Linked DNA regions of Homo sapiens: region 2 is linked to region 1. The links come from fine-mapping of genetic effects on gene expression. A gene starts in region 1. The other region holds a variant in brackets. All regions are shown on one strand. Distances are between the middles of the regions.

Region 1 (15,502 bases):
ATAATTAAAAAAAAAAAGAATTATTCTTCTTTGGTACTATGATAATTTGTATAAAGATATATATACTGTACCCATAAAGTAACACAGCAAGTTTTAAAAATAAACACACTAGAGGTCATTCTTATAAATTAGATTTGTCATCAAAGTAATATCCTTTCGAGGCTCATTTCAGTAAGAGAATCAAAGCTCAAAATGTTTTGGAAAACTTTCTTTGGAAAATGTCTTCAGATCCTTCATCAGTCACTTCTTTCGAACATTCTTATAGATACACATCTTTGGCTTTGAAGGTGTTTGTTTATTTTTACAAGCAACTAGTCATTAGACACCACAGTTTAGGTTAAAGATCATGACATATTAGATTAAAATGTAAGGTATATTTGGATGCAAATTTCCACATGTAAGTTATATACGAGTTCTGAAAACAATGCCAAGAGGAGTTCTAGAAATGTTGAAAAAGAGAGAGAGAAAGAAAACAAGGAAACGTGTTTAAAGAGTCACAGACCACCCCCTCAACTTTTTTCTTTTTTTTTTTGATAAAGAGTATTGCTCTGTTGCCCAGGCTGGAGTGCAGTGGTGGGATCTCAGCTCACTGCAACCTCTTCCTCCCGAGTTCAAGTGATTCTTGTGCCTCAGCCTCCTGAGTAGCTGAGATTACAGGTGTGTGTCACCATGCCCGGCTAATTTTTGTATTTTTAGTAGAGATAGGGTTCCACCATGTTGGCCAGGCTGGTCTTGAACTCCTGACTTCAAGTGATCTGCCCGCCTCGACCTCCCAAAGTGCTGGGATTACAGGCGTGACGCCCGGCTAACCCTCCTGAAAATCTGATTAAAATTACAGTTCCTTTCCCTGGAAACATATGGCTTCCCCATCGCCCTATGCCCTGCAAAACCACTTGCACAGAGTATTAGATAGTCATGAACATGCTGAGGACCCTCTGTGGAGCCACATTTAGACCCCATGATTTAAAGCAGTGGCTTTTTTATTTCCTTTTCTGTTTTTTTTTTTTCCTGTTGTAGCCAACAAGAAAAAAAAGAAAAGGAAGTACCTTGTATACTGTGACCCAGTTTGTGCATATATATATATATATAAAATTAAAAGTTTCACAAAACAATCCTCAACCCTACTAGATGTGATAGTATTCTTTCTTTTTGATTTCATTAAGAAAAATGTTACTCATGACCTACTGCACTAATTTCACAATCTATAACTTGAAAAATACTAATTTAGAATAACTGCTAAATAAATGGAATAAGTTAATGAAAAAGAAAAAACTCACTTGATTATAAAAATTCTGGGCTGGGTGCTATGGCTCATTCTCATATTTTGGAAGACCAGGGCAGTAGGATCGCTTGAGCCCAGGAGTTCGAGACCAGCATGGGCAACAAAGTGAGACCCTGTCTCTACAAAAAAATCAAATTTAGCTTGGTGAGGTGGTGCATGCCTGGGGTCCCAGTGACACAGGAAGCTTAGGCAGGATACTCACTTGAGCCCAGGAGGTTGAGGCTGCAGTGACCCATGTTTGCACCACTGCATTCTAGCCTGGGTGACAGAGCAATACCCTATCTCAAAAAATTAAAATGAAAAATAAAGATTCTGGCTGGACGCAGTGGCTCACGCCTGTAATCCCAGCACTTTGGGAGGCTGAGACAGGCAGATCACAAGGTCAGGAGTTCGAGATCAGCCTGGTCAATATGCTGAAACCCCGTCTCTAGTAAAAATACAAAAATTAGCTGGGTGTGGTGGCACGCACCTATAGTCCCAGCTACTTGGGAGGCTAAGCCAGAAGAATCACCTGAACCTGCGAGGCAGAGGTTGTAGTGAGCCAAGATTGCGCCACCGCACTCCAGCCTGGGTGACAGAGTGAGACTCCATCTCAAAAATAAATAAATAATAAAGAAAAATTTAAAAAAAGATTCTAATATGTTATTTTAAAATAATAAACACAAAAGTTATTTCACTCTATAGTCCAACCTTTCTAGAGATTGGATTCTTTATGGCAAAACTGTGTTGCCTTGGTCATTCATCCACATGGCTTACTACTGGAGATCCCACTGAGTGAATGATACAATGGTCAAAGAAACTCCATACCTTAATATTAGAAAACCATAAATCATTTTCATGTAACGTGGCAAGGTAGACAGATGTAAGAAGTCCAATGCAAAGGGCAATGGTTCCACCAATTGTCAATGACAAAATCTTCCATAATCTTCTACTGGTACAACCTTTTGGAAAAATGGAACAGATAAATAACTAAGTCAGTAAAAAAATCAGAATGTAATAGTTCTACTTCAGATTATCAAGTAAGCTAAGTCTAGCTGCCTGTCACTGGGAAAGCTTTTCCTGTCTCCAGCGGAGGGTCCTTTCTGATTCCACAGACCTGTTTTCATTCTATTACAACTGTTACCCCGTATCTAACTGTCCATGTGTCCATTCTGCCAACTACAACGTGAGCTTCTTGAAGACAAATACATTATCTTATTCATGTTTAATACTGAGGGCCTCTGTCCGGCACAGTTTAACAACCGTAATTTAACTATGAAGTCTGTTAAATGGATGACTAAATGTGTTACGTGTCTAGGACGTAATCGATCTTTTAGATAATCTAGGTACAATTGGTGGCTTATTCTTTAAAAGCTATTTTAAAAACTTGATTACCTAAAAAATAATTATTGTTTTTTGAGACAGGATCTTGTTCTGTTGCCCAAGATGGAATGCAGTAGTGCAATCTCGGTTCACTGCAACCTCTGCCTCCTAGGTTCAAGCAATTCTCCCACCTCAGCCTCCTGAGTAGCTGGGACTACAGGCACATGCCACCATGCCTGGCTAATTTTTGTATTTTTAGTAGATACAGGGTTTCACCATGTTGGCCAGGCTGGTCTTGAACTCCTGACCTCAAGTGATTCACCCACCCAAGCTGGGATCCTAAAGTGCTGGGATTACGGGCATGAGCCACTGCACCTGGCCGATTACCTAAAACTTTTTTTTTAAACCCACAGGTTTTGCAGGAATGCTCTGGGGGGAAAAACCCACAGAATAAATAATCCAACATAACTCAAGTTAAAGGACATATAAACTAGGCAAAATATGGATAGCACATATAAGAAAGCTTAAATACCCTTAACATAAGATGAATACTTTCAGGACAATTTATTTTATTTCAGGACAATTTATTGTCCTGTCAAGATGAATACTGCAGTAGGAAAAAGATTAAGGACATGAACAGGCAATGTACAATAGAAAAAAGTGGCCAATAATAATAACAGACTGAAGATGTTTAAATTCATTAATGTTAAAGAAATGCAAATCAAAACTGTGAGTTATACTTAAATCTTGGCCAATTTGACAGCTTTCAAAATGCTAATACTGTTTTGGTAAGGGTATAAAAAATAGACATCTTCAAACATTGCTGCTAGAAGAATAAATTGGTGCCTCTCTGGAATGCAACATGGCAGCAGTGAGTAAAAGCCACCAAAATGAGCATCCCATTTGGCCAGTAATTCCCAATCTAGGCATGTACCCTGCTGTGGTTTGACTATTCGGCCCCTCCAAATCTCATGATGAAATGTGATTCCCAATGTTGGAGGTGGGGCCTAATGGGAGGTGGTGTGGTGATGGAACCAGAGCCCTTATAAACAGGTTGGTGAGATTCTAGCAGTACTGAGTTTTCATTCTGTTAGTCCTAGGGGAGCTGGTTGGTTAAAAAAGAGCCTGACATCCTGTGTTCCCTGGAAATTGCTTCTACTCTGGTCATGTGATCTCTACACACTGGCTCCCCTAAGTCTTCTGCCACGACTGGAAGCTTCCTGAGGTCTCACTAGAGGCAGATGCTGGTGCCATGCTTCTCATACAGTCTGCAGAACCCTGAGGCAAAGAAACCTCTTTTCTTTATAAATCACCTAGCCTCAAGTATTCCTTTATAGCAACAGAAATGGACTAAGACATGCCCCAAGGAAATAAAGTTTTAAACAAACATATGGCCACAAGGAAATTGATCACAGTTCTGTCTGTATTAGCAAATGGTAAGAAAACCTTTCACTTCTACAGTGGCAGCTATAAAAATACTTTACATAGATGATATTTCAAAAATACGTTAACTGGCTTATGACATGTTCATAACATAATAAGAGAAAAATAGCAAGCTACAAAACAGCACGTGGATCCCAATTTTGCAAAACTGTATACGAATGCTTATGGGTATACATGTGCAGAATATGACATTAAGACAGCAAGACAGTGCCACTGGTGTTAGTTTCAGGATGGGAGTATATTTCTTTTTCTTTGCATTGTTTAAGGTGTTCAGAAAGTACTATTATCCAAAACGTGTTAATCACTCGCTAATGGCTGAGCCAGGTGTCATGACCTCCCATTACAGATTACTTTTGTTAAACTGTTTCCCTGAATTGCTTTACTAGCCTGGCTGGTAAGAATTAACATGGCTGTAAATAATGTAAATTCTGTCAGATATCCAAAATGGTTAATGGGTATGAAGATTTTCATGTTAACTTTTAAAATCCTGACCATGCTTTAGTTACAAAAGCTACTCAGGAAGCAAGAAGTTGGTAATTAATGCTATCTGATGCATCACTTAGCAAGTCTTTACCATTATACAAACAACTGACCAAGTTCTGATTACTTTTCCCACCAATAAAAGAAAAAAAAAAAAAAGCAAAAGAAAACTTCAGGAATTTGACTAATTATAAAGAATTTTTAAAAAATGTTGATCCACCTTTCACTACCTTAATGGAAACTCACCCAAGGTAAGGTTGCCTGGTGTAAATAGTATACACGACCAGAAAAATTAGAGAGAGACTAAAATCTGGGGTGTGGGTGGGGGGACCATTACTCTAGAGAGTCAAAGGATGAGATTGGAAGAACCGTAAGTTAATGAACAGACAGCTGACAAACACTTCTAATCAAAGCTCTTTCATCTTTTGTCAAATCATAACTGTAAAATCAATCTAATCAAATTGCAATTAGAATATCAGGGTACTACAACAAGTTTCAATTGTTAGGTCCCACCAAATTTTTATCCTATTGGAGAGTGACATTTTAATATGCAGAAATAAAAGCAACCCAAATTGCTGCTTTAGTTTAAATCACCTACCAGATGGCAATTTATTTTCCAACTTCACATTTTCTTCTTGGGCTGGAAAGTCTTCAGAAACTTCTGTGGCTCTTATTTCTCTTCTTTGCCGGATGGACATCATGATGTCAGACTTACATGCATTGTTCTCCAAATCACTCCTAGATAGCAATAAACAGGCCATCAACGTCAGTGCCTTCTCCCCAACACACCCCGTGCTCATCCATGCTGAAATGCCTTTACTTATGCCATTTTCCCTCTATTAGCATGCCCTCCCTTTTTTTTTCTTCCCCCCAAGACAGGGTCTCACTGTCACTCAGGCTGGAGTGCAGCGGCACCATCACGGCTCACTGTAGCCTCTACTTCCACAGGCTCAGGTGATCCACCTCAGCCTCCCGAGTATCTGGACTACAGGCATGTGCTACTACACCTGGCTAATTATTTTTTGTAAAGATGGGGTCTCCCTATCTTGCCCAGGCTGGTACTGAACTCCTGGCCTCATGCGATCCTCCCCGCCTTGGACTCCCAAAGTGCTAGGATTACATGAATGAGCCATTGTGCCCAGCCTGCCCTCGATCTTGCCATCTAAATCGTTGCTGGCCTTCAAAGCTACACTCAAAACACAATTCAAATATTTATTCAACTCAATCATATTTATTCATGAAGCATGTGCTCTACAGCAGGCCCTGCCAGGAGTCAGGAATACAGGTAAGCAACACAAACGAGCCACTGCTTTTCTTCCAGAACATCTTGGGACATTCCAGTTCCGGCTGATCTTCTCCCTCCCTGAGCCATAGCAGTTACCACGCAATGCGTCACGTAACTACACAGTTGTATATTATTTTCTACTTCCATAGGCGGTAGTAGGTCTTCAGTACCTCCCACAGAAGTGGCCACGTGGGAGATACTCCATAGTAAATGTGTTGACAACCGGATTTTGAAGAATTAAAATATTGTTTTGTCTCAGGTACCTGAATTTTAACACCAGTGTTCTATAAAACAATTCACACTGGCAGCTTCAGGAATACGCCTCAGTGGTGATGACTGCGGGGGTGTGCCAATCAGGGCAGCTGCTATCCCAGGGAGCGTCGGTGGGAGTAATGGGTGGGGGGGAGCAGGAGCCTGGTTTGGCAGCAGCAAGTGGGAGGCGGGGGAGTGGTGGCAGTGAGTAAGCGGGTTCCAGTCCTCCAGAACATCTTGCTTCACTCCTCTGAATAATGAACAGCCTCTTACTAATTATTTCTTAAATGTGACTAGTAGCCTGACATGATTGTTTCCACAGTTTATTAATTCCTAAGGGTAACTTGCTCTACAGAACAAACCAACTAACATTATACAATTCATGTATTCATTCATACCAAAAAAAAAAAAAAAAGCAGGAAGCCAGATTTAAGTACTGTGCTTTCAAGCACTGGAAATGGAGAATCTGGAACAGAGAGGGAGAAGAGGAGTGTTTAACAAAGTCCTACAGCCACAGATGGGCTTATCCCCCATGTGACCTCATCCTAGAGTCCTCCCTAAGTGTGAGAGGACTTTTTTAAACAATTCATATATTCTAATATGTTAAGGCAGAAAACCAACACATATTTAAGTACCAATTATGTGTCAGGCACTGCAACAGTCCCATGAACTAAGAAAAAAAGTTCCTCCATCAGATCAAAAGGAATGCCATTGTAAACAACTGAAAAGGGACCAGAAGCGATTCTTTATTAATAAGGACGACTAGCGCTAGCCGGGCGAGGCGGCTCATGTAATCCCAGCGCTTTGGGAGGTTGAGGCAGGAGGATGACTTCAGACCATGAGTTTGAGACCAGCCTGGGGAACAGAGCGAGACCCTATCTATACAATAAAATAGCCAGGCTCGGTGGTGCATGCCTGTGGTCCCAGCTACTCCAGAGGCTGAGGTGGGAGAATCGCTTGAGCCCAAGAGTTCGAGGTTGCAGTGAGCCGTGATAACGCCACTGCACTCCAGCCTGGGCGAGACAGCGAGACCCCTGTCTCTAAAAAATAAAAATAAAAAAGCCTAGCGCTCTAGTGAGCATCCCCTGGACGAGGCAGGCACCGGGTCCGCTTACCTACGCGCCACGCCCCTGCACACCTGGCGTCCCCATCAGGTAGGTCTCCAAGGACAGGGGCAGCCGGGAAGTTCAGGCACGCGCCCCAGCTCTCCCAAGACCGCGAGCGGCCGCCGGGGTCGCAGCCCAGGCCCTGCCTCGCCGCACGGCCGACGAGCAGAAGCCGCTCCGCAAACTTGGTCCTTCCGGAGCCCAGCCCGGCCCGCGTCCCGGCAGACACTCCCGCGCTCCGCCCCTCCCGACGCCCCGACGCCGCGGCCGCGCCCCCCGACTGCGCCACGCGGCGGGGAGGGGCGGCCCCAGGGGCTCGGGGCTGTAGCCGAGGGTTCCGCCGGCGCCCGCCCGCCCTCTCGGTAGACCCTCGCCCGCGCGTCCCGGCGCGCCGCCACAGACCTGCGGCCTCAGCCGTCCTCACGCGCGGCTCCGGGAGGGGAAGGAGGCCGACGGGGCTAGGCGGGAACGGGGCCGCGCCACGGGCCGCAGCGCGCCGCGGGTACAAGGAGGGCAGAACCGCCGCGGAGCTTTGTGGAAATGAGGGGCTGGGGGGCGTCAACAGCCCCGGGGAGGGGGCGCGCCGGAGAGGCCGGGCGGCTGCCCCCGCGCCCATAGGCCCCGGGAGCTGTTCGTCAACACTAGGCCCCGCCTCCTCCCGCGGTTCCCCGCCTCGTCTCGTGCTGCGCTGGCCGGAAGGAAGCGGCACACTTCCGCTTGCCTGGTCCGCATTGAGTCCGGTCTGTTCCGGAGACTCTGAGCGCGGCCGCGGAGCTGCAGTGGCGGGGAGTGGGGTGCGGATCTTGTGTTTGCGCACGCAGTCGCCGGCCACCTCAGGCCGGAGCTAGAGATACGGCTCGGGATAGGAGGGCCCGGCGGCTCTGAGGCAGGTTCGCCTCGAGCCGCACGGCCCGGAGCAGCGGCTCCGCGGTGGTCCCCGGGGCTTGAGAGGGGTGCGGGCCTGGGAGCCCCTGAGGGCCTGATTTACGGAACTCCCCCTCCTTCCTCCTTTCTGCCGTTCCCTGCTCTGTGGCGGATGCGCAGGGATCAGTAGGGACGGCAGCAGTAGGGCCACTCGGGCCTGCCCCGCTTCCCGCATTGCCCGGTTTGGCGCGCCGCCTCCGGGCCTTGGCAAAGCCCCAGCGCCCGATTGTCACTGACCAGTGCTTGGAAGTCCTTTACCGACTGCCCGTCAGCGTCCCGCGGAGAGGATTTTGCGTCTCCAAAGACGCCCCTCTTCCGAAAACAGGCTCCTCTGTGTTCTCAGTCGGGTATATTTTTCTGTCTCCAAACTAGATTGGCAGCCGTTTTTTGAGAGCAGGTACTGACTGTGCTTTATTTCTAGATACTTTTCTTAGTCACACCACGGAAAACACTAGGTGGAACCTTTTTTAAAATTATTTTTTACAGGTGAGGCTCTCAGTCTGTCGCCCAGGCTGGAGTGCAGTGGTGCTATCACGGCTCACTGCAACCTCGGCCTCCTGGGCGCAAGCGATCCTCCCGCCTCAGCCTCCGGAGTAGCTGGGACCACAGGCTCGCACTACTATGCCCAGCTAATTTTTAAATTTTTCGTAGAGATGGGGGTCTTGCTTTGTCGTCCAGGCTGGAGTGCAGTGGTGTGATCGTAGCTCACTGCAACCTTAGTCCCCTGTGCCCAAGTGACCCTGCTTCCTCAGCCTCCTGAGTAGCTGAGATTCATTTTAATTTTTATAGTGATGGGGTCTCGTTGTGTTGACCAGTCTGGTCTAAAACTCCTGAGTTCAAGCAGGCCTCCTGCCTCAGCTTCTCAAAATGTTGGGATTACAGGCTTTAGCCACTGCAGCGGGCCCATCAAACGTTGTATTTGTCAGTACATAATTTACATGTTAATTGATTTTTGTTAAAGGGATGGCCATCTGGGACCTCCACCCGTGAAAAGGCGGCTCATTGGTCTGACTCCAACACTAAATTACGCCATCCAGGAAGCCTTTCCTAGTCACCTCTGTTGGAGATCGTCCTCCTTTGTGTGTCGGTTGTTAGTAAAGAGCACACGTTCTGTGGAAAGATGTTGAGGTATCTGCTGGATGGCTTTGATAGAAACAAATGTCAGCTGTTTTTTCAGATGGCATTTGTCTTGTTTCAGCCTGGTTGTTGGTAGCTTTTCTGTCGCCTGGCTTGAGGGCAAGGACTGTATGTTTATTTTTCACGTTAAGATGCCTTTATGTGCATGTGTCTGTTTCATGAATACATAGGTGAATTGAGTTCCCCTTAAATAGGATTTCCCTCTTATTTTATAGGTTTTTTTTTTTCTCTCAAGTTGTTTCACTCTGGGGGAAATGTGACCATTGTGAAATATCATCGCTTAGTTAAAAAGAAAGTAGAATTCAGCAGTAGCTGCTTTTTTTAATACTATGAAAAGACATTCCTAAGCAAGATGAAGCTTTGAGACTTTTCCTAAGTAGGACCTACTGCTGAGAGTAAGTCTTGGGGAGAATAAGCCAATTAAGAATGAGTCTTTGGTTCTGATAAAGTAACCATGGAGGTGATGGATAATGAGTGTAGGTCCTTGCTCACACTTCTGGCCATATGAGCCCGGAGCCAGGGAGGTACTATAAAAGGAATGGGCTCCTGTAATGGACTGTGACTGCAGTGGTGGTATATAGCAAGACTTCCGGTTTGCAGTAGGTTTAGAAGCCTAAATAGTCTCCCTGGTTGTCTCTGCCAGGGCCACAAATAGTTGTGCTGTGCATCTCAAAAGTGTGGTCTGGGGATCTGCAGCGTCACTGTCACCATCACTTGGGAGGTTGTTAAGAAATGCATGTTATCAGGCCCTACCCCACGCCTACTCAATTTAGAATCTGTAGGGCTAGGGGACCACTAATCTTTAAGAAGTTGATATGGTTAGGCTTTATGTCCACACCCAAATCTCATCTTGAATTGTAATTCCCATAATCCCCACCTTTCAAGGGAGAGACCAGGTGGAGGTAATTGAATTATGGAGGCAGCTTCCCCCATGCTGTTCTCATGATAGTGAGTTCTCACAAGATGTGATGGTTTTATAAGGGGATCTTGCCTCTTCGCTCAGCACTTCTTCCTGCCTCCTTGTGAGGAAAGTGCCTTGCTTCCCCCTTTGCCTTCTGCCATGTTTGTAAGTTTTCTGAGGCTTCCCCAGCCATGCTGAACTGTGAGTCAATTAAACTTCTTTCCTTTATAAATTACCCAGTCTTGGGCATTCTTTGTAGCAGTATCCTTTATAGCAGTATGTATAGCTGTATGGACTAGTACAGAAGTTTTCCAGATAATTCTGTGCTCGGAAAAGTTTGGGAACCACAGCAGAACCTTGTTACTCAACATGTGGTCTGTGGGCTGTGCAGCATGGGCATCACCTGGGGTCTTCTGAGAAAAGCCAGGTCTCAGGTCCTACCCAAGACCTGTGTAGCCAAAATCTGCATTTTAATATGACCCCCAGGTCATTTATGTGTACATCACACTTTGAGAAGCACTGCACCAGAAATCTTTTAACACTGTTCATTACATCCATCCCATGGAAGTATCTTGTCTTGGGATCCCGAGGGTGTGAGTTCTTCCGTCTTACTGGCTTTTTCCTGTCTGATACATGATGTCCATTTTAAAAATTTTATTTATTTTAACTTTTTGAGGTAGAGTCTAACTTTGTCACCCAGGCTGGTGTGCAGTGGGGTGATTTCGGCTCACTGCAACCTCCGTCTCCCGGATTGAAACGATTCTCCTGTCTCAGCCTCCTGAGTAGCTGGCATCACGTGCTGGCCACCACGCCCGGTTAATTTTTGTATGTTTAGTAGAGACAGAGCTTCACCATGTTGGCCAGGCTGGTCTCAAACTTCTGATCTCAAGTCATCCACCTGCCTTGGCCTCCCAAAGTGCTGGGATTACAGGTGTCCTCCACTGCGCCCAGCCCAGTGTTCATTTTTCAATTGTTTGACTTAGTATAAACACTCTCCATCATTCCTGCCTTCTGTGACAACAGACTGTGCGTGTTTCCTCTGTCTACCTTTCAGGCATTCCTTTTAAGTTTCATGCAGCTACTCCTCCTCCCTCCTCCCTTCTCTTTCTCTTCTTTCTTCTTTTCTTCTTTCTTCCTCTTCCTTCTTCTTCCTCTTCCTCCTGTTCTTCCTCCTCCTCCTCTCTTCTTTCTTCTTCTCCTCCCTTCTCCCTTTTTGGAAAGAGGACTTACTGTGTCATCCAGCCTAGAGTGCAGTGGCTGAATCATGGCTCAGTGCAGCCTTGCTCTCAAAGGCTCAAGCAATCCTCCCATCTCATCTTCCAGAATAGCTAGGTTACAGGCATGCACCACCATGCCTGACTAATTTTTTAAAAATTTTTTTGTAAAGATTGGGGGTGGCAGGGGGTCTCTCTGTTGCCCAGGCTGGTCTCAAACTCCTGGGCTGCAGCGATCCTCTTGCCTCAGCCTTCCAAATTGTTGGGATTACAGGCATGAGCCACCATGCCTGGCCTCCTCTTCCTCTTAAAAATCAATGATTCTGTGGCCCGTGGATCTGATTTCCACTGATACTCTGATAACTCCTGTTTTTATGTCCAGGTGTATCTCCTGGTCTCCAGGTGCCATATGTCCACTGCCTATTGGACATTTCCATGTGTGTAAACACCTCAAACTCAACATGTTAAACCTTTTTCTAATCCCCACACTTGCGGTTCCTTCTGTGTGCTCCATTTACCTTATTGCTCAAATCAAGAGCCTAGAAGCCATCCTTGATTCCTCTCTATTGTGTAATCCACACATCCAATCATCCATTGAGTCCTGTTGGCATTTATCTCGTAAATACCTCAGATCTTGTTCACTTTGCTCATCTCTGTTGCCACCACCGTAGTCCATTTACCTGTATGTAATAACCATAGTGATCTTACTAAAATATAAATCCCTTGGAGGCGTTTTGGCTTTATTATAAAAATTAAGCTCCATGACACAGCTTGTAAGGACTGCCACGAATCAGGCTCTGTTTCCCTCTTCAACCTCTCCTTCACTTTCTATTCACATAAACCTCTGTCAGAGGTTTGTCACGTGGCTTATAAAAAGTCTTAAACCCTCTTTAATTGACTAGGTACTCTTCAGCCTTTAGACCTCAGCTTACACGATCTGTGCTGCCTCATGTTTATCCTCATACAGTATCCGGTTCCACAGAATCATGGTTTTTCTTTGTGAACAACAGAATACCGTGGAAGTGACAGTGTGGGACTTCTGAGGCTAAGTCATAAAAGACATCCCAGTTTCAGCCTTAGCCTCTCTTGGATTGCTCACTTAGCGGGGATGCCAGCCACCATGTAGTGAGGACACTCAAACTGCCTGTAGAGAAGGCCACGTAGGCAACAGCCTGCACCACCTTGGCAGCCATGGGAGTGAGCCATCTTGGAAGTATTAGGTTGGTGGGACATTAAAAGTAATGGCAAAAACCAAGATTACTTTTGCACCAACCTAATAGATCGGCCAGCTACAGGTCAGCCTTCAGATGGCGGCATAAGAGATCTTGGGCCAGAAGTGCCCATCTATGCCACTCCCAAGTATTTGACACACAGAGACTATGAGGATAATAAATGTACATTGTTTTTTTAAGCCACTAAGTTTTGGGGGTAATTTTGTACAATGATAGATAACCAATACAATATCCACCGTATGTATGTGTTACGATTTATTTATTCCCATCTAGTTGGACATCTAGGTTGTTTCTAGTTTTATGCTATTTCAGGGAATGCTGTAAGAACATACTTATATTTATGTAACTCTTTAGGATGTATTTCTGGAAACAGGGTTGTTGGAATTCATATTCTTTTTTTTTTTTTTGAGACAGAGTCTCACTCTGTCGCCCAAGCTAGAGTGCAGTGGCGCAATCTTGTCTCACTGCAACCTCTGCCTCCCAGGTTCAAGCGATTCTCCTGCCTCAGCCTCCTGAGAAGCTTGGATTACAGGCACCCGCCATCATGCCGGGCTAATTTTTGTCTTTTTAGTAGAGATGGGATTTCACCATGTTGGCTAGGCTGGTCTTGAACTCCTGACCTCAAGTGATCCACCCGCCTCGGCCTCCCAAAGTGCTGGGATTACAGTTGTGAGCCACCATGCCCAGCCCTAGAACTCATATTCTAAATTGTGATAAACATTGGTAAACTACATTCCAAAAAGGTTAAAGATTCTATTGTTTTTCTCTTCCACCAGTGGGTATTATGACACTTATTTCTCCATGCCATTGCCAACAATTAGTTTTTAAATCTTTGCCAATCTTAGGTGACAAATAATACATGATTAGTGTGCATTCTTTATTAATGAGGTGAAGACAATATATCAGGAGTTTATTGGCTATTTGCATTTCTTTTGTATAATTTGTCTTTTTGTGTTCTTTCACCATCTATTTAATCTTGCTGTGACGGGATTATTTATAGATTATGAGTTTTTTTTGTTTTTGTTTTCGAGACAGGGTCTTGCTCTGTTGCCCAGACTGGAGTGCAGTGGCGCCATCTCAGCTGACTGCAGATTCAACCTTCTGAGCTCACGAAATCCTCCCATCTCAACCTCCTGAGTAGCTGGGACCACAGGTGTGTGCCTGGCTAATTTAAAACAATTTTTTGTAGAGATGGGGTTTTGCCATGTTGCCCAGGCTAGTCTTGAACCCCTGAGCTCAAGGAATCTGCCCACCTCGGCCTCCCAAAGTGCTGGGATTACAGGTGTGAGCCACTGCGCCTGGCCGATTATGGGTATTTATTAATCTGTTGTCATATATGCTGCAGATAGTTTCTCATTATTGTGTATCTGGTATGATGTCTTTTGCTATGCAGGGATTTTCCATTTTTATATTGTCAAATTTCTTTTATACCTTCTGGGTTTTTCCATCATGCTTAGAAAAACCTTCCCCATCTCAAGATTGTAAATGTTTTTTAATTCTTTCTGCTAGTATTTAAAAATATTATAACTTTTTAATATGGTGTGGGAGAGACTTGACAATTTTTTTTTAAATTAGATAGTTGATTATTTCACCATCATCCTTACTCTACTGATTTAAATTACCTGTACCACATACTGAATTCCCATATGTATATGGCTTATTTATAAGCTCACTCTTTTTTTTTTTTTTTTTTTCTGGAGACAGGGTCTTGCCCTGTGGCCCAGGCTGGAGTGCAGTGGCATGATCTCGGCTCACTGCAACTTCCACTTCCTGAGCTCAAGCAGTTCTCCCACCTCCGCCTCCCAAGTAGCTGGGACTATAGGTGGGACTATAGCCACCACGCCTGGCTAATTTTTGTATTATAAGATGACACTTATGTTTAAATGATTTTAAAAAGTAATTAGTCTTGAAACAGTTCTACATGTTTTTAATTATTTTATAGAATGTTTTCATATTGAGAGGGCAATTGACCCTTCATTACACTTCTTTTAACCACATATTTTGGCAATTTCTGCATATTTATTTGCTCAGATAAACTTTATAATCATTTACTAAGTTCTAAAACAGAATCCATGGAAATTTTTACTAGAATTATATAAAGTGTTTAGAAATGTTTGGGAGAAATGAGATATTTACAATGCTGAGTATTCCCTTACAGAAACATGTATGGGGCAGTTTGGTATACTACATATATTTTTTTCCAACAGTACTTTCATCCAATTTAGTTGACTTTTCAAGTATCTTGGTAAAAGTCAATGCAATGGTCGCCAAACTTCTTTTATTTATTTATTTATTTATTTATTTATTTATTTATTTATTTATTGAGACAGGATTTCACTCTGTTTCCCAAACTGGAGTGCAGTGGCGCGATCTTGGCTCTCTGCAGCCTTGACCTCCTGGGTTCTAGCGATTCTCATGCCTCAGCCTCCTGAGTAGCTGGGACTACAGGCGTGTACCACCACACCTGACTAATTTTTGTACTTCCAGTAGAGATGGGGCTTCACCATGTTGGCCAGGCTGGTCTTGAGCTCCTAGCTTCAAGTGATCTGCCTGCCTTGGTCTCCCCAAAGTGCTGGGATTACAGACGTGAGCCAGTGCGCCCAGCCTCCAAACTTTTATCAGAAAAAAATTTTGTCTTCTCTTTCTGTATACATATAAACATTTTTTTTTTTAAATGAGGCAAGGTCTCACCATGTTGCCTAGGCTAGTCTTGAACTTTTGAGCTCAAGTGATCCTCCAGCCTTGGCCTACCAAAATGTTGGGATTACAGGCATGAGGCACCACACCCAGCCCATATAAACATATTTTTAAGCAAAGTGACTACACGTGGAAATCCTAGTGTTTTCTGCATACATTCCATTGGATTGTTTTACACACACTGTGTATGACTCATGTCAGAGACCACAGAGGTGGGGCCTGTCTATGGCAGTCCTCTGAGATTGGC
Region 2 (15,502 bases), 25 kb before region 1:
ATTAAAACTTTTTAGGCAAGGCACAGTAGCTCATGCCTGTAATCTTGATACTTTGGGAGGCCAAGGTGGGAGGACTGCTTGAAGCCAGGAGTTCAAGACCAGCCTGGGCAACATAGGGAGATCCTGTCTCTACAAAAAACAAAAACAACCCCTAAATAAATAAAAATTTTAAAAGTCTTCATTGGCTTTAAAAAACAGCAAGAAAAAAACCCAAAAAACTTTTTAATGACTGATACGTTAATTACCTTGATCTGATCACTATACATTCTATATGTATTGAAATATCACTATGTAGCCCATGAATATGTATAATTATTATTTGCCAATTTAAAAAAACCCTTTAAGAGATGAGATATGCGGCTGGAGAAATCTTGATCACCCAGCAAACAGATAATAGGTTTGGGATTATTATGAATGATTTTCTTGATATGCAATTCAATGCTCTCTGTTCCTCAGCTGGAATTACATGTAAGTAGCACTTTCTCCCTAACTAAATAAGAAAAATTGAGTAAACCACCAGGCAAACCAAAGAGAAACTGCTCCCAACCAAACAAATGTGGCAGAAGAAATTTCTCTGAGCTGGAAATGAAGTGACTTCATTTTTACTTACATTTTGGAAAAAAAAGAAGCATACTGACTCCAACTCACCTATTTGTGACATACCAGAAAGCTGCCAACAGTCCTGACAGCCATGTACCACTGAGTAGCCAGCTGGTTATGTAGAGAGCTGTGACATAGATCGCCTGGAGCCCAAATAAGGTGTAAATATAAAAATAAACTGGCTCTAAATATTTCTGTAAAAGGGAACAATAAAACATGTTTGTCAGGTGAGCCCTAACCCTCCTCAGTGCCATTTAAAACATGACAGTAGGAATACAATATGCAGGAGCTTGCCTCTAATTCCAAGCAGCAAGCCCACACCCCTTTCATCTATTAGAGAAGCGTTCGGGTAGCCTTTCTTCCCACCACCGAGAAGAGACAGGGGAAGGAAGTCCGTGACAGGTCTGGCTTCACTCTTTACTCTAGAAAGTTTTATACCTAACTTTGTCTGATGATACGTCATTCACATGAGAAGTGGTCATTGTGATTTGCTGACTTTACAAATTTTTTCTCTCAAAGATCCATCAGGAGTGAATGTGTAATCACTCCTGATTACAGAGAGCAAATGAAAATATTTATTAGCTTCTAGACCGCATACATACATAAGCCAGGAAGCATCTGTGTACAAAAACCTTATATCCTATGTAAATAAAAAGCAGTATCTTATAAAGTTCATAATATACATGGAAAAAAAATATAGTATTGCTGATTTTCTACTAAACCAGTTGAAGATCAGAAAGAACGATGTGATAACTTTCAGTTCAAAATGGCAGACTTTGACTTTCATCTGATATTAATAATTCAATATCACAAAACATACCTGTATGGGTAGAACTCTATATAAAATACTGAGAAAAACCTCTTGGTAAATATTCATTCGCTGAAGGAGGTTAATTGTCTTCATAGATTCAGTTTTATTATCATATATTAGGCCATGAAAACCTATAGATATGTGAAAAGTCAGGAAGAAAATAATTACACTCATAATTATTCATTCATTCAAAACTATGCACAGATTGTTTAGTAAGTGCTAGAGACTGTGGTAGGCATTGGGGATATAAGAGTAAGCAAAAAAAACATACTCCTGCCCTCAAAGAGCTTACCACATATTCGATGGACATCATTTAAACATTTACACAAACATAGGTAAATTAAAACTTTTGTAACTGGAATGAAACCACCACCACCACCACCACAAGGTCCTTCTCTAGAAATGTGGGCAAGAGGATTTCACATTTCTCCACCCTGCCCTCCTGCCATGCAACCTGCAGTATCTCCTTTGGGAGAGTATACATGGCCTTCCTTCTCCACTCCCCAGAACGGCTTTGGCCATGTGCTCTAACCAGTGGCATGTAAGTGGATGTAAGCCATAGCTGAGCAGAGGCTTTAGAAGACAAGGCATGTTTCTACCAGCTCTTGCTCTTGCCCTCTGCCATGACACTGGCACATTCCAAATAGGGCTTGAATGCGCAGATGTTGGGGGCAGACCAGAGCTGCAGCTCCCTCACAGCAGACATGTCATGAGAAGGATGAAGGAGAACTTGACCTGCTGTTACAGAGATCCACAGCCACAGAGGTCCTCTGTCACTGTAACCAGGCTAATTAATCCAAGGCATGAATGGATAGTTCACAGAAGAAAACATGCACACAGTCCTTCCACACAGGAGAAGATCCTCAACCTTGCTCCTATTAAAACAGTGCAAATTAAAACTACCCTGAGGGATGCTAGTTCTCACCTACTGCCTTGGCAAAAAAAGTTTTACAATACACTCTGTGAGATTATAAAAAAGTAGACTCCTATATACTACAGTTGGGAATACAAAATGGTGTCATCTCTATGGAGAGGAATTTTGCAGTATCCAGCAAAATCACATATGAATTTACCCTTTGACCTAGAAAGCCCATGTCTAGGAATCAATCCCACACAAAGGCTGGCAAAAATACAAAATGACATTGGCACAAGGTCACTCATGCAGCACCATTTGTACCAGCAAAAGATTGATCCAAAACAACCCAGATGTTCCTCAATAGGAGGTGCTGTGGACTGAAATGTGTCCCCCACAAATTTGTATGCTGAAGCCCGAAGCCCTAATATGACTGTTCTTGGAGACAGGGCCTACAGGAGGTAATAAAGGGTAAGTGAGGTCACATGGGTGGGGTCTTAATCTGATAGGACTGGTGTTCTTATAAGAGGAACAGACAAGAGCTTGCCCTTGTGCTCTCTCTGCATTTGCACAGAGGGAAAGGCTATGTGAGGACACAGCAACAAAAGGGCATCTACAAAGCCAGGAAGAGAGGCCTCAATAGAAACCAATCCTAACAGCAGGTGGATCTTGGACTTCTAGCCTCCAAAAGGGAGAGAAAAATCTCTGTTGTTTAAGCCACGCAGTCTGTGGTATTACATTATGGCAAGCCTAAAGTCTAACACAGGAGTGTTATGGATGGATAACTCTCCAACCTAAGAGTTGGACAGTTATGGGCCCTCATGATGGGATTAGTGGCCTTACAAGAAGAGACACCAGAGAACTCGCTCTTCTCTTTCTGCCATGTAAGGACACAGCAAGAAGGTGGCTGTCTGCAAGCCAGGAAGAGAGCCCTCCCTAGAACCTGACCATGTGGCTCCCTAACCTCAGACTTCCAGCCTCCTGAATTGTGAGAAAATAAATTTCTGCCATTTAAGAGTCTGTCGTGTTTTAATTAATTAGTTAATTTTTTTACTTTTCTATTTTGAGACGGAGTCTCGCTCTGTCGCCCAGGCTGGAGTGCAGTAGCGTGATCTCGGCTCACCGCAACCTCCACCTCCCAGGTTTAAGCGATTCTCCTGCCTCAGCCTCCGGAGTAGCTGGAATTACAGGCATGCGCCACTACGCCCGGCTAATTTTTTTGTATTTTTAGTAGAGATGGGGTTTCTCCATGTTGGTCAAGCTGGTCTCGAACTCCCGACCTCAGGTGATCCATCCGCCTCGGCCTCCCAAAGTGCTGGGACTACAGGAGTGAGCCACTGCGCCCAGGCTCAGAGGATCATTTTAAACTTCAACAAACAGCAAAACAATGCAAAGGACATGGCATAAAACAGACTTTCTGAAAAGGACACTGCAGTGTGAGAGCCGAGACAAGGAGGCAGAGTGTCGCCTCATTCAGTCTCTGTGGGAAACACGCATGCCAGAGGCTAAAGTATTCTGTTGCTCTGGACGTGTCCATGAATGACTGTGAAAGTACTATTAATGCTGATTTTAGGGTTATAAGTACATTTTAGGAAGTAAAAGATTTTGCAACTATGGAATCTGTGAATAACAAGGTTTGATTGTATGGGGAAAAAATGAATACTAAGCCTGCTTTTCTTGTATAAACTGTACTGCAAGGTAGCCAAACAATTAACGAGAAGGTTTTCTATATAACATAGTTCCAACTAATAAATAAGGAGGAATGACAGAATTAGAAGGTCACTAATTTGCATCCCCTCTGAAATAAGAACTACAGACGATAATCATCAATGGCTGCTAAAACCACTAAGCGAAGGGCTGGTGATTAATTACCCTTATTATGGATGAATCTGGCTATCATCACAGGGACCAACTCATTAATTTTTATGGCACAAAACCAAAGATAACCAAAATGTCATGTCTCCTAGGTGATAAAACTACAAGTAAAAAACATCACTTATGGGCTGGGCGCGGTGGCTCATGCCTATAATTCCAACACACTGGGAGGCTGAGGCAGGAGGATCACTTGAGCTCAGGAGTTTGAGACCAGCCTGGGCAACACAGTGAGACTTCGTCTCCACAGAGAAACAAAACAAAACAAAAAATGAACGTGGTAGTGCACACCCATAGTCCCAGCTACTTGAGAGGCTGAGGCAGGAGGACTGCTTGAGGCTGGGAGATTGAGACTACAGCGAGCTATGATCATATCACTGCACTCCAGCCTGGACGACAGAGTGAGACCCTGTCTCAAAAACAACAGCAAAAAAATAATTTATGAATAACTGCCACCAAAAATGTCAAAGCTGACTCCAAATAAAGCCTATAAAAGAGCAGTTTTCTGTCACATGCACTCATGCTAAGCCGATCAAGTATGTACTAGGTAGAAGAGATCCATGTTGGGGCTTTCATTAGATGGAGTAAAGGCAGAGTGTGGGGTCTAACCCACTTAGGGGAAGTAAAAATGCAGGAAAATGGCAACTGTGAAATAAAGGAATGAATGGAGCACTGGGGACAAGAGGCACAACTGTAATTTTCATTTGTGTTACCAAAATGCCTCCTGTTCTCAGACAATACTCCTTTCACCTGCAAAGACCTCCTCCAAAATGATCATGAGAAAATTCAGCAACAAAACCATGAAATTGCAAAGATATTACTTTTGGGATGGAACAGAGCTGGAAGGCAAAGAGAGGAGGGTTATATAAAGTATTACATAACTTCTTCCAGAGCAAAAAACATTTTCATGAAATGATTAGACATTAGCACGGAAAAATACACATGTTCTAGAGAGCATTTAAGTGGTTTTTAGTGCACAGTACTTCTCACTAAAATATTGAAAAAAATGCAGGAGACCCCAAATGAAACTATCAGTTGTAATTACCTTGCACGAGGGTTGGAGCCTGCAGCATCTGCTTGTAGTAGGAGTAATACAGGCCACACTCTGTTCTGAATGAGATTTCTCGCTCCACTTCCTAAAACAGAGTTAGATCCTATGGGTTTATGTGACCTAGTTTTGTTTAAATACATATTGTTACTGTAGAAAGGATACATAACTGCAACTTGAAAGAGAAAAAACTCTGAAAATATAGTCTCAAAAAATCTTGGCAAACAAGAATGGAAGGCTGATCACTGTTAAAGCTGAGTGAGGGATACATGGGAGTCTGTCCTACTATTCTCTACTTTAGTGAATGTTTAATCTTAAAAAAAATTTTAAAGAATACATCACCATTCCTATGTAATAGCAGTGAGACACAAAACAGGGATGGCACAAAAAAAAATGAAAAGAAATATAATTGCATTAGACACCTACCTAAAAGCTACCAATATTACATAAGATCAATCATTTTCATTTTATTCTAAGAATAAAAGGTATTTGTAGTCAAATAAGGCAGACACATGAATTTTACTCTGACAAGCGTAACCCTGGTGGGAAGAGGTTTATGCAGGTAAATGGATACATGAAATATTTAAACTGCTTTTAGATAAGTATTCAACCCTAGAAGAACTGAAAACTTAAATAGCTATTAGCCAATTTAGTTACAAGATACTTTTATTAAATTTAAATTATTACTATAAAACAGAAGCAATGGGCAACAATGACACGGAAGACTTTCTGGAATAATCCAATTAATACTGTTAGATGATACACTTTATTTATAGGTTGAGCAGCCCTAACCTGAAAAGCTGAAATCCAAATGAAATACTTTAAAATTGGATACCTTCTGAGAGCCAACACGATGACACAAGTTACCCTGAAAGTGTTATTTTTTTCACCGTATTGATGGTATGTCATATTTTTTATTGTTAAGTACTTATGTACGAATAAGTATAACAAAATGATTACTTATAAAGGCACCATGTAAATTCAGAGTCAGGAACAATGGTGATGCCAAATAACCATAGACTGTCCACTGGGATGGTTGAGATAGTGACACCTTTGTTTTCTGATGGTTCAGTGTCTACAAACTTTGTTTTATGAACTATATTGTATAAAATCACCTTCAGGCTATGTGCATAAGGTATACATAAAACATAAATGAATTTCATCTTTACACCTGAATCCTATCCCCAAGATTTCTCATTATATATATGCAAATAATCCAAAATCTGAAATCCAAGACACTTCTGGCCCCAAGTATTTCAGATGAGGGATACTTAACCTGTACCTGTAAAAGTATAAATAAATAAAAAGTTATAATCTATGTTATTAGAGATTCTTTTACACCAGTGTTAAAAACAAAACAAAACAAACCATGTCCTAAAATCTGTAACACACTGTCTAAAATATAATTCGATCTGTTTTTTTTTTTTGAGACGGAGTTTCACTCGTTGCCCAGGCTGGAGTGCAATGGTGCGATCTCGGCTCACTGCAACCTCCAACTTCCAGGTTCAAGCGATTGTCCTGCCTCAGCCTCCCTAGTAGCTGGGATTACAGGCATGTGCACCATGCCCGGCTAATTTGGTATTTTTAGTAGAGATGGGGTTTCTCCATGTTGGTAAGGCTGGTCTTGAACTCCCGACCTCAGGTGATCCATCTGCCTCGGCCTCCCAAAGTGCTGGGATTACAGGCGTGAGCCACTGCACCCGGCCATGCTTTTTCATATTATAGCAGATTCACATTCCACAAACCCAATGGGGGAAAGTGATAAATACTGAACATCTCATTTTCTAGCTGATGAACTTCTTTTAGCTCATTTTGCTTCCCCCTAACTCCAACTAATTTTCAAATGGTAATAAACATCTCATTAAAAGAACCACTCAGGCTGGGTGCGGTGGCTCATGCCTATAGCCATGCACTTTGGGAGGCTGAAGTGGGTGGATTGCTTGAGCTCAGGAGTTCAAGACCAGCCTGGGCAACATGGCAAAACCCTGTCTCTACAAAAAAAAAAAAAAAAAGTAGCCAGGCATAGTGGCATGCACCTGAACTCCCAGCAACTGGGGAGGTTGAGGAAGGGGGATCGATTGAGACTCAGCCTACTGGGAGGCTGAGGCTGCTGTGAGCCATGATCAAGCCACTCCAGCCTGGATGATAGAGCGAGACCCTGCCTCAAAAAATAAATAAATAAATAAATAAGAAAGAACCATTCATGCTATTATCTTCAGACTTAGAAATTATTTATTTAATATATTTCTGCTACCCTCTAAATCTTTTTATCATTGTTTGTTAATTCCTTTTAGAAAAATGGGAGGTAGGGTAGCAAATCTTATATATTGAACTTCCTTTCACAGAAAACCAATTTATCCTGGGGAAATCAAGCATTTAAAAAAAGGCCCATCAGGTTCTGAAATTTATTTATTTTTTTTTGGAGACAGGGTCTCACTCTGTCACCCAGGCTGAGTACGGTGGCATGATCACGGCTCATCGTAGCCTTTGCGTGTCAGGGTCAAGTGATCCTCTCGGCTTCCAAGTAGCTGGGATTACAGGCACATGCCACTATGTCCACCTAATTTCTGTATTTTTTGTAGAGGTAGGGTTTTGCCATGTTGCCCAGGCTGGTCTTGAACTCCTGAGCTTAAGTGATCCTCCTGCCGTGGCCTCCCAAAGTGCTGGGATTACAGACAGAAGCCACAGTGCCTGGGCCTAAAATTTAATTTCAATAACACACTTGCGTTATAAAAAGGCTACTACATAATGATACAGCTTTTTAAACTTTCATTGCTAGTGATTTGTGTTGTATCTTTCATAGCAGTAAAGGCAACTCTTCTGGGTAGTTACTTTAATCCACTCATTTTTTATCTTTGAGAAAACGTGCTCTATTGCTTTTGAGAACTTAAAACCAACCTGGTATCACTCGTTTCTAGAATGTCCAAACTCCTACTCATTCAAATAACCACAGAGGCTATGAATTGATGTTAACTGAGCAAATACTAGCTTTTGTCCATGCAAATTAAGAACAACAACAACAACATTAATTACATTATTTTTCTTTTCTCTAGCTTCCTTAAAGTGTTCAAAGGCACTTGAGGAGTGTGAAAATCCTGTCACACCTACATCCCAAATCAAACTGGAGAGCCAATAAAGAATGAAAGAGTGAATTATATGGTTCTAAGAATAAAAGACCAGGGAATAAGAAAAAAC[A/G]CTGCTCAAAGTACTAAAGGTAGAAAGCTTTTGTGTCCCATCTCTCCCTTTATTATAGCCAGAATGCACAAAGAACAGAGGGGGACCTAATTAGTAAAAATGCATTCAAACATGATTAATTGGTAATCTAGCACCAGCTGTACAGAACCAAATGCTATACTTTATTAGACAGACACTTGCAAGTTTTACATCTGCTTCATGCTAAGAGAACATCTGCTTCACTCATTCAAACACTTTTCCAGTTTTACAGCAATTTATACTTCGCTTGGTAGATCACACCCGTGAAAATATACACCAATAGTAGTTATCCTCTAAAGAATGCAAAACGAACAAATACTTCATATTCAATTTGCACAGGTTCCATGGGGAATGCAATGTTGACAGAACGAAAACATCTTCGAAGATAATGACAGAAAGAAGTGGAAAGACAAAAGACTTGTATTTATAAAGAACTGTACAGCTGGCCGGGTGTGGTGGCTCACGCCTGTAATCCCAGCACTTTGGGAGGCTGAGGCGGGTGGATCCTGAGGTCAGGAGTTCACGACCAGCCTGGCCAAGATGGTGAAACCCCGTCTCTACTAAAAATACAAAAAATTAGCCAAGCGCGGTGGCAGGCGCCTGTAATCCCAGCTACTCAGGAGGCTGAGGCAGGAGAATCACTTGAACTCGGAGGGCAGAGGTTGCAGTGAGCTGAGATCGCACCACTGCACTCCAGCCTGGGAGACAGAGTGAGACTCCGTCTCAAAACAAACAAACAACAACAACAAGAAAAAAAACAAAAAAAAAACTGTACAGCTAAAACCATTGAAGTAACAGTGTATATAGCAATTTAATAGATGTACACACACACAAAAAATGACTGCTCACAATAAATGATCACATTCCCCACAGGCACTCAGACAAGTTGCTGGCAATGCCCAAAAGGCTAGAGTCCTTTGAGACAAATGACACCAAATTTGGAAAGGAAACATCAAATTAGCTTTTTAAAAATCTCACGTAAATAGATCCCCCACATAATGTCTGGTCACTCTGGCCTGCCTTTAGCAAGAACCCTCTAAGCCTGGTTGAGCCAGGATCCCCCGCATCCCAGTGGTTCCTCTTACTCATTTCCCAGCCACTGACCCCAATCCGCTCCTTGGCTGCCTATTCCTACTCACCCATGATGTACTAGAAGTTGAGTACAATCTCTCTCCACCACTGCAAGACCTCATTGCAGTGGTCCCTACATCTATCGCAATGGTCCTGAAGTCTTTCTCCTCTTGCTTTTTTTTAAAAAAAACAAAACAACTCATGTTTAAAAAAACAAGAACAACTCACGTAAAAAAGTTCTGTTTACAGGCCAGGCGCGGTGGCTCACACCTGTAACCCCAACACTTTGGGAAGCCGAGGTGGGCAGATCACCTGAGGTCAGGAGTTTGAGACGAGCCTGGCCAACATGGCGAAACCCCGTCTTTACTAAAAATACAAAAATTAGCTGGGCATTGTGGTGCATGTCTGTAATTCCAGCTACTTGGGAGGCTGAGGCATGAGAATTGCTTGAATCCGGGAGGTGGAAGTTGCAGTCAGCTGAGATCCCGGCACTGCACTCCAGCCTGGGTGATGGAGTGAAACTCTGTCTCAAAAAAAAAAAAAAAAAAAAAGATTTGTTTACAAAAATTGTCCCCCAAAATAATTAGACTGCTAGTAGTGGGGAAGCCACCGAAAAATTAACTTTATAAATGTAATCTGTTTCAGAATTAGGTTAACAAATCATCTCACCAAGAAATAGTAGCCCATAAGACAGCTGTTCTTAAAGTTCTGTACTGGGAATCATGCCCTCAGCAAACATATTTATGGCACATACATGGTTTATTGTCTGGTTAAATTCATGTCCATCTGTTAGAGGGGAATGATTCTTGCCCCAGAGTTGATTAAAGCCGTGGCATGTGAGAAGTGCCAAGCAGGGCTTGTGAGGAGGGCAGTCTGCTACTGAAGTGACAGTTCTTCCACTGGGCCCACACTCAGGCAATCAGCAGTCTTAGCACTACCGTACTACTATTGTGTGGATTACCCCTATCTATTCTAAAGTCTCCTTGCTTTGCAGGAGTATTCAATGGGAAGACATGCAAATTCGGCAATATCAAGTAAATAAGAATAACAGTGGAAAATGTTAGCACAAGGAAAAAAGACTAAAAAGAAAGAGTGATGTTGGTGCTTATAGCCAAAGGAGAACTGCCTTCCTTATCATTGCATATTTATTTGCTGGGGAAACAAAAAGGTGCAAGAATTTAGTATTTGACCGAAAGATGTTTATGTTCCAACAAGAAAGAAGAATGCGGGGGTGCGGTGGCTCACGCTTATAACCCCAGCACTTTAGAAGGCCGAGGTAGGTGGATTACTTAAGCCCAGGACTTTAAGACCAGCCTAGGCAACATGGCAAGACCCAGGCTGTACTAAAAATATAAAAAATTAGCTGGGCATGGTGGTATGCCCCTGTAGTTCCAGCTACTTGAGGGGTTGCAGTGGGAGAATCACCTGAGCTCAGGAAGTCGAGGCTACAGTGAGCCGAGATCGCACCTCTGCACTCCAGACTGGGAGACAGAGCAAGATCCTGCCTCAAAAACAAACAAACAAACAACGAAACACCAAAGAAAGAACACATTGTAAACAAAGGGAAACGACTTCAGGCACGCCTCATCTCACTGTGCCTCACTTTCCCGCCCTTTGCAGATAATGCATTTTTACAAATTGAAACTTAGTGGCAACTATGCATCAAACAACTATCAACACCATTTCTGCAACAGCTATTGCTCACTTTTTGTCTCTGTCACATTTTAGTAATTCTTCCAATATTTCACATTTTTCTTTATTATTATACCTGTCACGGGATCTGGGATCAGTGATCTTTGATGTTATTAATACTACTGTAACTGTTTTGGGGCACAATAAACCACACCCATGTAAGACGGTGAACTGAAATGTGTGTGTTCTGACAGCTCTGTCATTCTTCTGTCTCATTTCCTCTCCCCAGGCCTCTCTGCTCCCTGAGACACAATAATATCGGAATTAATAACTTTACAATAGCCTCTAAGCGTCGAAAGGAAGTGTGGCACATCTCTCACTTTAAATGGAAAGCTAGAGATGATAAGTTAGTGAGGAAAGCATGTCGAAAGTTGAGAGAGACCAAAAACTAGGCCTCCTGTGCCAAAGAGCCAAGTTGTTAACACAAAGGAAAAGTTACGGAAGGAAATTAAAAGTGCTACTCCAGTGAACGCACCAATGATAAGAATGAAAAACAGCCTCATTGCTGATACGGGGAAAGTCTAATGCTCTGATGGAAAATCAAATCATCTAAAACATTCTCTTAAGCCAACGCCTAATCCAGAGCAAGGCCCTCTCTTCAATTCTGTGAAGGCTAGAGAGGTGAGGAAGCTGCAGAAGAAAAGCTGGAAGCTAGCAGAGGTTGGTTCATGAGGTTGAGGGGAAGTAGCCATCTCCCTAACATACAAGTGCAAGGTGAAGCTGAAAGTGCTGATGGAAAAGCTGCAGCAAGTCATCCAGAAGATCCAGCTAAGATCCCTGATGAAGGTGCCTACATTAAACAACAGATACTCAATGTAGATGAAACAGCCTTCTATTGGAAGAAGATGCCATCTCGGACTTTTACAGCTCAGGAGAAGTCAATGCCTGACTTCAAAGCTTCAGAGCATAGGCTGACTCTCGTTAGGGGCTAATACAGCTGGTGGCTTTAAGTTGAAGCCAATGTTCACTTACCATTCTGAAAATCCTAGGGTCCTTATTAAGAATGATGTGAAATCTACTCTGCTTGTGCACTAAAGATGGACAACAAAACCTGGATGACAGCCCATGTGTTGACAGCACGATTTACTATTTTAGGCCCACTGTTGAGATCTACTACACAGAAAAAAAAAATTCTTTTCAAAATACTACTGCTCATTGATAATGCATCTGGTTATCTGTGTTATTTTCATGCCTGCTAACACAAAATCTATTCTACAGCCCATGGATCAAGGAATAATTTTGACTTTTGAGTCTTAATTTTTTTCTTTTTTTTTTTTGAGACAGAGTCTCGCTCTGTTACCCACGATGGAGCACAGTGGCGCCATCTCAGCTCACTGCAACCTCTGCCTCCCGGGTTCAAGTGATCCTTCTGTCTCAGCCTCCCTAGTAGCTGGGACTACAGATGTGTGCCATCACGCCTGGCTAATTTTTGTATTTTTAATAGATACAGGGTTTTACTATTTTGGCCCGGCTGGTCTTGAACTCCTGACCTCAAGTGATCTGCCTGCCTTGGCCTCCAAACTGCTGAGATTACAGGCATGAGCCACAGCACCTGGTCTGATGGTGTACTTTGGAGTACAAAAATGTCTAATTTTGATGAACACCAATTTATTTATTTATTTTTAATCATGTGTTTTTAGTGTGGTCTCTATGAAGTTTTGGCCTACTCCACAGTTATAAAAGATTCATTTGCATATTTTCTTCTAAATGTTTTATAGTTTTAGACATTTAGGCCTATGATCCATCTTGAGTTAATTTTTGTGTATGGTGTGAGGCAGTGGTCTAATTTCATTCTTTTGCATGTGAATATCCATTTGTTTATAGACCATTTATTGAAGACTATTCTTTCTCCACGTAACTGTCCTTCCTGGTGCCCTGCTGAAAATCACTTGACCATCTAAGGATTTATGTCTGTATTCCCAATTTTATTCCATTGATTTATATGTCTATCCTTATGCCAGCATCAGAGTCTTGATTACTGTGGCTGTATAGTAAGTTTTGAAGTCAGAAAGTTTGAGTCTTACAACTTTGTTCTTCTTTTTCAAAACTGTTTTAGCTATTCTGAGTCCCTTGAGTTTCCATATACATTTTAGGACTAGCTTGTCAATTTCTGTGAAAAGTCCACCTGGGATTCTGAGAGGGATCATGTTGACTCTGTAGGTCAACTTGAAGATCTACAGAGACCTTTTTTTGTTTTTGAGACAGGTTCTTGCTCTGTTGCCCAGGCTGGAGCACAACGGCATGATCTTGGCTCACTGAAGACTTGGCTTCCTGAGCTCAGGTGATCATCCCATTGCACCCTCTCAAGCAGCTGGGTGTAAGCTGTGTGCCACCAAGCCTGGCTAATTTTTTTTTTTGTATTTTTAGTAGAGACAAGTTTTCACCATGTTGCCCAGGCTTGTGTGTCTTATCAGTTTTAAATCAAACTTTCTGACTTCCAGTTATAAAAGAGAAAGAAATCAGGATACTCCCATCCATTTTTTTTTATTTATTTCTTTTTTTTTTTTAGAGACAGGGTCTCACTCTGTTGCCCAGACCGGAGTGCAGTGGTGTGATCACAGCTCACTGCAGCCTTGACCTCCCCAGCTCAGGTGACCCTCCTGCCTCAGCTTCCCAAGTAACTGGGGCTGCAGGTGCACACTACCACACCCAGCTAATTTTTTAAAAATTTTTTGTAGAGATGGGATCTCACTATGTTGCCCAGGCTGGTCTTGAACTTCTGGGCTCAAGCAATCCTCCCACCTTTTGCCCTCCAGAGTGCTGAGACGACAGCTGTGAGCCACTGTGCCAGCTGGCCTCCCCAACCTTTTTTTTTTCGAGATGGTCTCATTCTGTCACCCAGGCTGGAGGCCAATGGCACAATCTTAGCTAATGATAACTTCTGTGTCCTGAGCTCAAGTGATCCTCCTACCTCAGTCTCCCGAGTAGGTGGGACTATAGGCACATGCCACCATGCCTGGCAAATTGTTTTTGTTTTTAGAGATGGGGTTTCACCATGTTGCCCAGGCTTGTCTTGAACTACTGAGCTCAAGCGATCCTGCCGCCTTGGCCTCCCAAAATGCTGGGATGACAGGCATGAGCCACTGTGCCCAGTCAGCCTCCACCATCTTTTACCCTCTCTTCCCCTTCTTCTTTTATCTTGTGTTATACGTATTACACTGTTATGTTATTATTATGCATTATAACATTATTACTTATGTTGGCATTCTTGTGTATTAGACTGGTGCAAAAGTAATTGTGGTTTTTGCCATTTAAAAGTAATGGCGGCCAGGCATGGTGGCTCACACCTGTAATCCTAACTTTGGGAGGCAGAAGTGGATGGACTGCCTGAGCTCAGGAGTTCGAGACCAGCCTGGCATGTCTCGAACAGCCTGACATGGCAAAACCCTGTCTCTACTAAAAATACCAAAAAAAAAAAAAAAAAATTAGCTGGGCATGGTGGTGCATGCCTATAATCCCAAGTACTGGGGAGGCTGAGGCACAACTGCTTGAACCCAGAAGGCGGAGGTTGCAGTGAGCCAAGATCACGCCACTTCATTCCAGCCTAGGCGACAGAGCGAGCTCTGTTTCATAAATAAATAAATAAAATTAATGACAAGACCTACATTACTTTTGTACCTAATATAACATTATTTATATCATACACATTTTGTTCTATCACTAATTTTTAGTTTTAGTCCTATAGTTAAATAAATTTGAGCCCCACTGAGCATCTTTCTGTCATTGTTTTTCCATGTATCTCATGGATGGATGAAGTTTTTCCTCTTCCAATTTCTTCAGGTATTCTTAAAAGTACATATTTCTAGGAACAAAAAAGTTTGTATGCCATCTTTATATGCAATGGAATGACTGGGTTAAAATGTGTAAATCACTTTCTTTTACTTGAGCATTTTCTAGGCATCATTCATGGTCTTTGACCATTAGACATTACTGTGGAGAAACTGAATGCTAGGTTGACTTTTGTTTCTCCTTATTGGTAACTTGATCTTTTCGTCTAGAATGTCCAAAGGTTTCTTTACATATTTAAGTTCAGCAACTTCAGAGAACTCTATCCTGCTAATGATTTTTCTAGGCCAATTTATCCTGGAAACTGCTCTGCCCCTTCAATTAGTAGATTCAAATTTCCTTTTACTTTTGGAAAGTTTCCTTGAATTACATCTTTAAACGTGTGTGTGTGTGTGTGTGTGTGTGTGTGTGTTTTTCCTGATTTATTGTTCTCGTTCTCTTTTTTTGGGACACAAATGATGCATGCTTGCTGCTCTTTGTCCTCAATTGTCACTTGCTTTCTCATACTGTCACTTTATTCAATCTCCTTTCATTTTGTTGACCTCTCTCAGTCCTG

Evidence for each region.
Region 2: its variant is fine-mapped to the expression of DPY19L3 in whole blood (INTERVAL, PIP above 0.99).

What each region holds. Positions count from the first base shown.
Region 1 is chr19:32,397,960-32,413,461 of GRCh38, reverse strand. DPY19L3 (dpy-19 like C-mannosyltransferase 3) reads right to left here and starts at 7,692. Exons shown (of 19, transcript NM_001172774.2): 1 at 7,553-7,692; 2 at 5,106-5,245; 3 at 2,090-2,223. The coding sequence starts at 5,208. It overlaps DPY19L3-DT (DPY19L3 divergent transcript), which reads left to right and starts at 7,923. Exons shown (of 3, transcript NR_046201.1): 1 at 7,923-8,471; 2 at 13,594-13,711. RefSeq lists silencers at 7,311-8,060, 8,091-8,140.
Region 2 is chr19:32,422,486-32,437,987 of GRCh38, reverse strand. It overlaps DPY19L3 (dpy-19 like C-mannosyltransferase 3), which reads right to left. Exons shown (of 19, transcript NM_001172774.2): 4 at 5,182-5,272; 5 at 1,421-1,542; 6 at 649-794. Among named protein-coding and RNA genes, the nearest start is that of DPY19L3, 24 kb to the right of the region's middle. The variant A/G (reference allele first, on the strand shown) is at 8,380.